2 separate regions of the Homo sapiens genome follow, and region 2 is linked to region 1. The links come from fine-mapping of genetic effects on gene expression. A gene starts in region 1. The other region holds a variant in brackets. All regions are shown on one strand. Distances are between the middles of the regions. Region 1 holds the start of ZBTB6 (zinc finger and BTB domain containing 6). Region 2 overlaps STRBP (spermatid perinuclear RNA binding protein).

The links. PIP is the estimated chance that this variant, and not a neighbour inherited with it, causes the effect. A credible set is the group of variants that fine-mapping cannot tell apart.
Region 2: its variant is the best candidate, but not a certain one, in a credible set for the expression of ZBTB6 in whole blood (INTERVAL, PIP 0.56).

The regions. Positions count from the first base shown.
Region 1 is chr9:122,911,083-122,915,476 of GRCh38, forward strand. ZBTB6 (zinc finger and BTB domain containing 6) reads right to left here and starts at 2,241. Exons shown (of 2, transcript NM_006626.6): 1 at 2,169-2,241; 2 at 1-999. The coding sequence starts at 990. RefSeq lists enhancers at 1,956-2,065, 2,076-2,305, 3,774-4,394.
Region 2 is chr9:123,242,512-123,246,905 of GRCh38, forward strand. The region is part of intron 1 of STRBP (spermatid perinuclear RNA binding protein); the gene reads right to left. Among named protein-coding and RNA genes, the nearest start is that of STRBP, 24 kb to the right of the region's middle. The variant C/T (reference allele first, on the strand shown) is at 2,432.

The sequences.
Region 1 (4,394 bases):
CTGTAAGCATAAGAATAGTTTATGCATTTTAAGGTGGCGCAGATAGTTTTCAACATGAAGAAAGCCTCGAGGACACCTGGGGCACTGGTGCCTCAGTGAATAACCTTCCTCCAGATTCTGAATCTCACTCACTGTACCATAACTTCCTTCAGTATTCTCACAAAATAAGCCCTGATCTTGATTCCCAGGAACTTCAGCCACTCTGCTCTCAACTGTAGAATTGATCAATGAATGCTGTGTTTCAGAGAAATACATGCTTGCTTTTGAAGAGGTACAAGGCTGTGAAAACTGCCCATTTTCGACACCAGCTGTACTGATGGATTCTACATGAAGGATACAAATTTCATTGTCTTTAAAACCTATGTCTACTGTAGACAGCTCTGGTGACTTCATTTCCTTTCTCTCTGATGTCAGACTCTCTACTGTAGACTGCAAAGCATTGCTTTCCTCTTCTTTAACATGGAAATCTATGTTTACAGGACTATCTTCTGAAATTTCAATTATCTCACAGTCTTTATCAGAATTTTCATCTTCATTCTTAACATCAGGATCAGAAGACTGACACAGGTCAGTGTGTTGGTTGTTGTTTTTCATAGAAAGATCAATTTCCAGATACTTTGACAAAGCTTCTGTGCACTTTTCCACAATGTGAACCATCTGAAGGTAACTGGCAGCAGTCAAGTATTTCAAAAGCTCTTTCCTTTTAACTTCAAGTGCTCCAGTATAGCAAGACAGTAACAATTTTCTGCCAACTTCTGCACTCTGTAAGATGGTGATTCTGACATGTTTTGACTGTGTGAGTAAAAACTGATCTCTCATAAAAGTGGAGCAAGCAGCCAAAATCACCTTGTGCCCCTGGAACTCAGTGTCATTAATGTAAATTGATACATCACAAAATAAATTCTGCTGTCTCAAAAGATTCATTTTCTGCAAGACCACATCTCCTTGCTGTTCAAACTGGAAATGCAGAACATCAGACTCAGCAGCCATGATCACAATCTAAGCAAAATAAAACACAAACATTGATGTAATAAGGATAGGGAATGCTTTCCCATGCTGTAATGGTGAAAACAAACGAAAAACCCCAAACCTGAATTAGGAAGAAGAAGACTCAAAGTCTAATGTAGGTGTTATGAACCTTTATGCCACCATCTCAAAACGAGAACTTTATAATGCACTTCTCTATGATCTCATAGCACATTTTTCATAACTTTGTTACAACATTCATTACAATGAATTGTAGTGAACAGTTTCTAGCTTGTTTCTTTTGCTAAATGTTGTGTGCCTTGTGGTCAAGAACAATCTATCAATTTTGAATATCCAATATAAGCACTGTGACCACCAAAAAGTTGATTTAACATAATATATCCAATTAGCAACTTTAACGTAATCTCCAAACTTCCTACTCCCCACCACTACAACAGGTCCTCCTTCCGGTTCACCTGGACAACTGCAATGTCTTCCAACAGGTCTTCTTTATACCACACTCTTCTGTATGCCAGATTACCCGCCTGAGTGCCACCAGGATTAACAACCCTTATTTTATTTTATTTTTAATTTCCCTTTTCTGCTTTAAATCTTCTATCGTTCTTCTCTACCTCCGGGACAGTCCAGATTTCTTAGGAAAGAATACGAGACCCATCACGATTTGGCTCTAACCCATCTTTATGGCTTTATCACCTTCTATTCTCTTTTTCATACTCGAACCTCGTTCAATACTAAATTTTTCCATCATTACCCAGACAAAAAGACACGAATACACATTTCTTACATTCGCGTTTCCAGTTCCTTTTTTCAGCTAGTGATTAGGCTCCTTTAAGCCCAAATCAAGTAAAACTAATATGACTCCACCTCCCGTTTCAACCAGAGAGAGTCAGCTGCTCTCTGAGCACCGCGAGATGGTGCCTGATGCATCTGTGTTCCTGCACCGAGCTCAGGGGCCCACACAGAGCAGGAGGAGCTCAGGGAACATCTGCTGAACTGAAACCGGATGCCAGGTTCAGCACACAGGTATTCTGGAGGCAACCCTGCGAAGGGCCAAGGCCCTGTCGGCCCAGTGGTTGCAGCACAAGATTAGCCACTCCGGGGCCGAGCCCAGCTGTCCTCCTCCTCCTCCTCCTCTTCCTCAGGCACCCTCCACCTGAGGAATCTACTTTGCACTCACTCACCGACTCAGAAAACTAGAGTCAAGGATTCCGCGGCAGCGTCTGCCCAAGCCGGAAGATGGACTTAGCCTGGAAGAAAACACATCCGGTGCCAACCAGCTTTATTCTTTACTGGGGCCCTCTAGGCGCCCCGGAAGGACATTCTGAGACGGTCTTCCTTCCTCACTTCCCCCCTCTTGGAATGACAGAAAGGCTCCTGAATGCCGGCAAGCCCCATCTCTCTTGTCCCAGTTTCGGCACTCGAGCCGTTTTCCCCCACCATCCCTTTTTTTTTTTAAGACGGAGTTTCGCTCTTGTTGCCCAGGCTGGAGTGCAATGGCGCGATTTCGGCTCACTGCAACCTTCGCCTCCCGGGTTCAAGCGACTCTCGCTCCGCAGCCTCCCAAGTAGCTGAGATTACAGGCGCCCGCCACCACGCCCGGCTCATTTTTGTATTTTTAGTAGAGACGGGGTTTCACCATGTTGGCTAGGCTGGTATCGAACTCCTGACCTCAGGAGATCCGCCCGCCTCGGCCTCCCTAAATGCTGGGATTACCGGGTTGAGCCACCGCGCCCAGCCGAGCCATTTCCTTTTGTGAGTCCTCCTGAACATCCGAATTGGAGACGGGGTTTGAGGTTCGGTTACGGCACGTCTGTCAGAGTAACCAGACCTTTTATGGATTATTCTGGGACGATTCCTCTCCTTATTGGGGCCACCTACAACTTGAAAGGTGGCAGAGCAGAAACTATCATAAAGATCCGTATTCGAGATTGCCTAGATAATGCCCCATCAGGAGATGGCCCCAACCTCTGGATCTAGCTTCACACTTAAATGCGTTCCTCCATCCCAAAACTTTTGGCCCAGCTGTTTCCTCTGACGTGCCCTAGCCTTTTCCCCAGGCTTTTTTTTTTTTTTTTTGAGACGGAGTCTCTCTCTGTCGCCCAGGCTGGAGTGCAGCGGCAGGATCTCGGCTCACTGCAAGCTCCGCCTCCTGGGTTCACGCCATTCTCCTGCCTCAGCCTCCCGAGTAAGCTGGGACTTCAGGTGCCCGCCACTTCGCCTGGCTAATTTTTTTTTTTTTGTATTTTTAGTAGAGACGGGGTTTCACCGTGTTAGCCAGGATGGTCTCGATCTCCTGACCTCGTGATCCGCCCGCCTTGGCCTCCCAAAGTGCTGGGATTACAGGCGTGAGCCACCGAGCCCGGCCTTCCCCAACGTATCTTTAAAGAACCCGTTTATAAATCTCATCATCCTGAAGCCATCCTGAACTGCCCTAAGATAATTGGTTCCCAGTTTGAAACCTGTAATCCCTTTTCCTGCCTTCATTATTGCACTTAACACGCCTGTATTAATTTGTGCCTCATCTAGGCAGAGTTATTTAGGACAGTGGCTTACTGATCTTTGTATTCTCGAAGTCTAGCACTTGGTAGGCATCAAGTATTTGTGCTGAATGAAGATATGACTGAAGAAATTCTTTTTCTTTTTTTTTTGAGACAGAGTCTCACTCTGTGGTCCAGGCTGGAGTGCAGTGGCACGATCTCGGCCTACCGCAACCTCCGCCTAGCAGGTTCAAGCAATTCTCCTGCCTCAGCCTCCCGAGTAGCTGGGATTACAGGTGCCTGCCACCACACCCAGCTACTTTTTGTATTTTTGGTAGAGACGGGGTTTCACCATGTTGGCCAGGCCGGTCTCGAACTCCTGACCTCAGGTGATCCACCCGCCTTGGCCTCCCAAAGTGCTGGGATTACAGGCATGAGCCGCCGCGCCCGGCCTCTGCACCAATTCTATTCCTTTTTTTTTTTTTTTTTTTTTTTTTTTGAGACAAAGTCTCGCTCTGTCGCCCAGACTGGAGTGCAGTGGTGCGATCTTGGCTCACTGCAAGCTCCGCCTCTCGGGTTCACGCCATTCTCCTGCCTCAGCCTCCCGAGTAGCTGGGACTAATGCCCTGCCACCAGGCCCGGCTAATTTTTTGTATTTTTAGTAGAGACGGGGTTTCACCGTGTTAGCCAGGATGGTCTCGATCTCCTGACCTTGTGATCCACCCGCCTCGGCCTCCCAAAGTGCTGGGATTACAGGCGTGAGCCACCGCGCCCGGCCGCCTCTGAACCAATTCTTAAAGGCAGTTGCTCTGCTCCTCCAGCAACAGGTTCTCGTGGAAGTAAATGAATCTAGTAACAACTTTCTGATTAATTCGTATTTTTTTCTGAAGGCAAGCTCAGCATGCTTAATATGTATTTTTAAGACTATAC
Region 2 (4,394 bases), 330 kb after region 1:
TAGCTGGGCATGGTGACATGTACCTGTAGTCACAGCTACTCAGGAGGCTGAGGCAGGAGAATCGCTTGAACCCAGGAGGAAAAGGTTGCACTAAGTAGAGATCACACCACTGCACTCCCGCCTGGGTGACAGAGTGAGACCCTGTCTCAAATAAATAAATAAACAGAATTGAAATGAAATTGCTTCCACTTCCACAGCTCTATTAATTATGGTTTTTAACACCAAAAAGGGAGGGAGGGCTAAAAAGTTTAACATTTTGCTAATTACAAAGAATTCTCTCCATACAATTTAAGTAATTTGAGTATTTTCTCTACAGAACTACTTCTTTCTAGTCTCATTCCAATCTATTAAAATCCAATGGTAGAGACACTCCACAGTAAAAATGTCAATTCTTCCCAAATTTATCTATAGATGTAATAAAATTTTTACCAAGGATTTTTATAGACATAACCAAACTTATTCTAAAACTTACATGGAAAGACACAAGACCAAGAAAAGCTAAAACAATTTTTAAAATAATAAAATTGGAGAAATTCTACCAAATTTAAAGACTTATTATATAGCCACAGTAATCAAGATTGCGTGGTATTGGTAGACGGACAGACACAGAGATCGATGGAGTAGAACAGAGAAGCCAAAAACAGATCCACACAAACATGTCCAACTAATTTCTTAGAAAAATGCAAAGCAATTAAATGGAAGAAGGATAGCCCTTTCAACAAATGCAGCTAGAGGAATTAGACATCAATAAGACAAAAAAAAAAAAAAAAAAAGAAAAATAGAGCTTTCATCTAAACTTCACACCTTACACAAAACCTAATTTGAAATGAATCACAGACTTAAAACTATAAAACTTTCAGAAATAAACACACTTTTAGGAAAAAATCTTTGGGGCACAGGGCTAGTTGAAGAGTTCTTGCAAAAGCAAGATTCGTAAAAGGAAAACCTGATAAACTAGACTTGGTCAAAATTAATTTTTGTTCTATGAAAGACACAATTAAGAGGATATAAAGACAAGCTACAGCCTAGGAGAAAATAATTACAAACCACATACCCAATAAAGGACTTCTAACTAGAATATATAAAGAACCCTCAAAACTCAACAGTTAAAACAAATAAAAATTAAAAAACAAGAATCCAATTAGAAAATGGGCAAAAACATGAACAAACATTTCACTGAAAAGCAGATGGCAAATAAGCATATGAAAACATATTCAAAATCATTATCCAGAGACATGCAAATCCAATCATAATGAAAAGAATTACTACATAAGTATCGGAATGGTTAAAATAAAAAATAATTCATTGCTGAGGGAAATGTAAAATGGTACTTTGGAAAAGTTTAGAAGTTTCTCACAAGGCTAAATGTAGTCTTACAACACAATACAATAGGAATTGTGCTCCTAGATATTTATCTAAATGATCTGAAAACTTACATCCACACAAAAGTCCACACACAAATGTTTATAGCAGTTCTGTTCATAATTTCCAAAAACTGGGAACAACCAAGATGTTTTTCAATAGGTGAATGGATAAACAAATTGTGATATAATCACAGTTGAATACTGTGGTTCATCCACTATAGGATATTATTCAGCAATAAAGAGAGATGGGGGGAGAGTAAGAGTTATCAAGCCATGTAAAGACATGGAGAAACCTTAAATGCATATAGCCTAGCAAAAGAAGCCAGTGTGAAAAGGTCAGATACTATATGCTTTCAACTATATGACATTCTGGAAAAGGCAAAACTATGTTAACAGTAAAAGGATCAGTGGTTGCCACGAACTGGGGGTACAGGAGGGCTGAACAGGTAGAGAACAGATTTTTAGGGCAGTAAAACTATTCTGTATGATACTGTAACAGTGGACACATGTCATTTTACATTTGTTGTCAAAACCCACAGACCTGTACAAGTCACAGAGTCCTAATATAAGCCATAGACTAGTTAATAATAATGCATTAATACTGCATTATTGTTCAACAATTTTCACAAATTTACCATGGTAACAGATGTTAATAAAAGGGGAAAGTCATGAGGGAAGAAGGTATATGGGAACTCTCTGAATTATCTGCCCAACTTTCTGTAAACCTAAAACTGCTCCAATGAAGTCTACTAATCTTTCTCAAAAAATAGTATTGATGTCAAACGCTGGCAAAGATGTAGAGAAACTGGATCACACATACACTGCTGGTGGGAATGTAAAGTGATACAGCCACTCAGAAAAAGTACAGCACTATCTGAGAAAACTAAAAATGCATTTATCACATAACCCAGCAATTGTACTCTTGGGCATTTATCCCAAAGAAATGGAAAATTATGACCATTCAAAAGCCCATCCACAAATGTTCACAGCAGCTTTAACAGTAATAGCCAATATGGAAACAATCCAAATGTCCTTCAACAGGTGAATGACTAAACTGTGATACTTCC[C/T]TACCTACCATGGAATACTACTTAACTATAAAAAGGAACAAACTACTGACACATGCAACAACTTGGATGGATCTCAAAGGAATTAGCCTGAGTGAAAAAGCCAAGCTGAAAAGTTTACATACTATATTACTTCATTTACATAAAATTCTTGAAATGATAAAATTACAGAGATGGATTACTCAGTACATTATTTCCTACAACAGCATGTGAATCCACAACTACCTCAAAAAAAAAGTTTTATAAACTCCAAAGGTAAAGATATATTCTCTAAAACCAAATTTTTCCCCTTGAGTGGGCTAACAAATTTCCCAGAGCGGGAGTTCTAAGCCTCATATGCACACTGGAATTACCTCTAAAAATCCAGATGCTTAGGTAGCATCCCAAACCAATTAAATTAGAATCCTCAAGGTGAAATCCAAGCATCTGTATTTCTTTTTTTTGTTGTTTTTGTTTGTTTGTTTGTTTGAGACGTTGTCTCGCTCAGTCGCCCAGGCTGGAGTGCAGTGGCACGATCTCGGCTCACTGCAAGCTCCGCCTCCCCGGTTCACACCATTCTCCTGTCTCAGCCTCCTGAGTAGCTGGGAGCTGCCACCACACCCAGCTAATGTTTTTGTATTTTTAGTAGAGATGGGGTTTCACTGTGTTAGCCAGGATGGTCTCGATCTCCTGAACTCGTGATCCGCCCTCCTCAGCCTCTCAAAGTGCTGGGATTACAGGCGTGAGCCACCACGTCCGGCCTCAAGCATCTGTATTTCTTTTAACTCTCAGGTAATTCTAACGTTCAATCAAGAATGAGAATCAGTATCCTCCAGAGCTAGAGAGTCTTTTTAAAAGCAACCTTTACTAACATGTTAATAAGATTATTAACAGTTGTTAAGGATCTGGCTGTTAACAATTCACTAAAATCTTAGCCACAAAAATTATCCCACTGATAAATGGAAACTTTAACCCAAACCTCACTCAGCTTCCAGAAACAAAAGGATTTAGCCCAAGAAAGACAATAGTTCATTATGGTTTATTTTTAAATAACGTTCCTACTCGGCAATGGAGTTTGAGTCTGAAATTGAATGGTAGGTTCACCTTTATCTGTGAAACTTCTGTAAGTACAAAAATGGATATATTAATCTGGCTTTCCAAAATCTCTCAAGCCAAAAGGTTACAATATTCCATTTTAGACTTAACCTAAAATCAAAAGGAAAGATTTAAAATAACCTCGTGACTTTCACAAATTTAACTACCCACAGACAAACCAGGAGAACAAGGTACAGAACATGAAACATTTCGAATGAAGTATTCTTTTCCAACTGCATGTGAAAAGGCAACATTGACAGCATCACAAAAACCTTAATTTAAAACTAAATGTCACATAAGAACACCATATACACCCAAACAAACCCACATACCACATAATTCAACACATCCGGGCAGCAGTGGCTAAATAATGGACTAGCATGAATACTGCAAGGATTTTGGCAGACCGATGTAGAGTCGCTCACATTTCCTTTGCCTTTAACAGTGCCTGTTACATTACTAATGTAGTTTTTGGTTTTTAGGTTTGTTTGGAGTTTCATTGGGGTTTAGGGGGATGAGATTCCAATTATACTGTATAAATTATTAAGTTAGATTCTCAGCCCAGGAAAATTAAGTAAAACAACAATACTATAACATAACAGAATTTGACAGTTGTGTATTGCTTAAAACATTAAAGTGATAAGGCCATTTTTAAATATGTGTAATCTTTTTACAAGTTCAGAAGAACCACAAATTATGGAGCTACAAACCACCAGCTATTCAAAGGAAAATTGTAGCTTATAAAATATTGGCTGACTGCCAATACAAACAAATTTTTTCCCCTCAAAAAAGCTTTGTAAGCCAAAATACTGTTTCAAAAGTGACTATAACCATCTTATTCAATCAAGTAGTAATGTTATTACACAGTAAAGGTAAGTCAATTCTTGGCCTA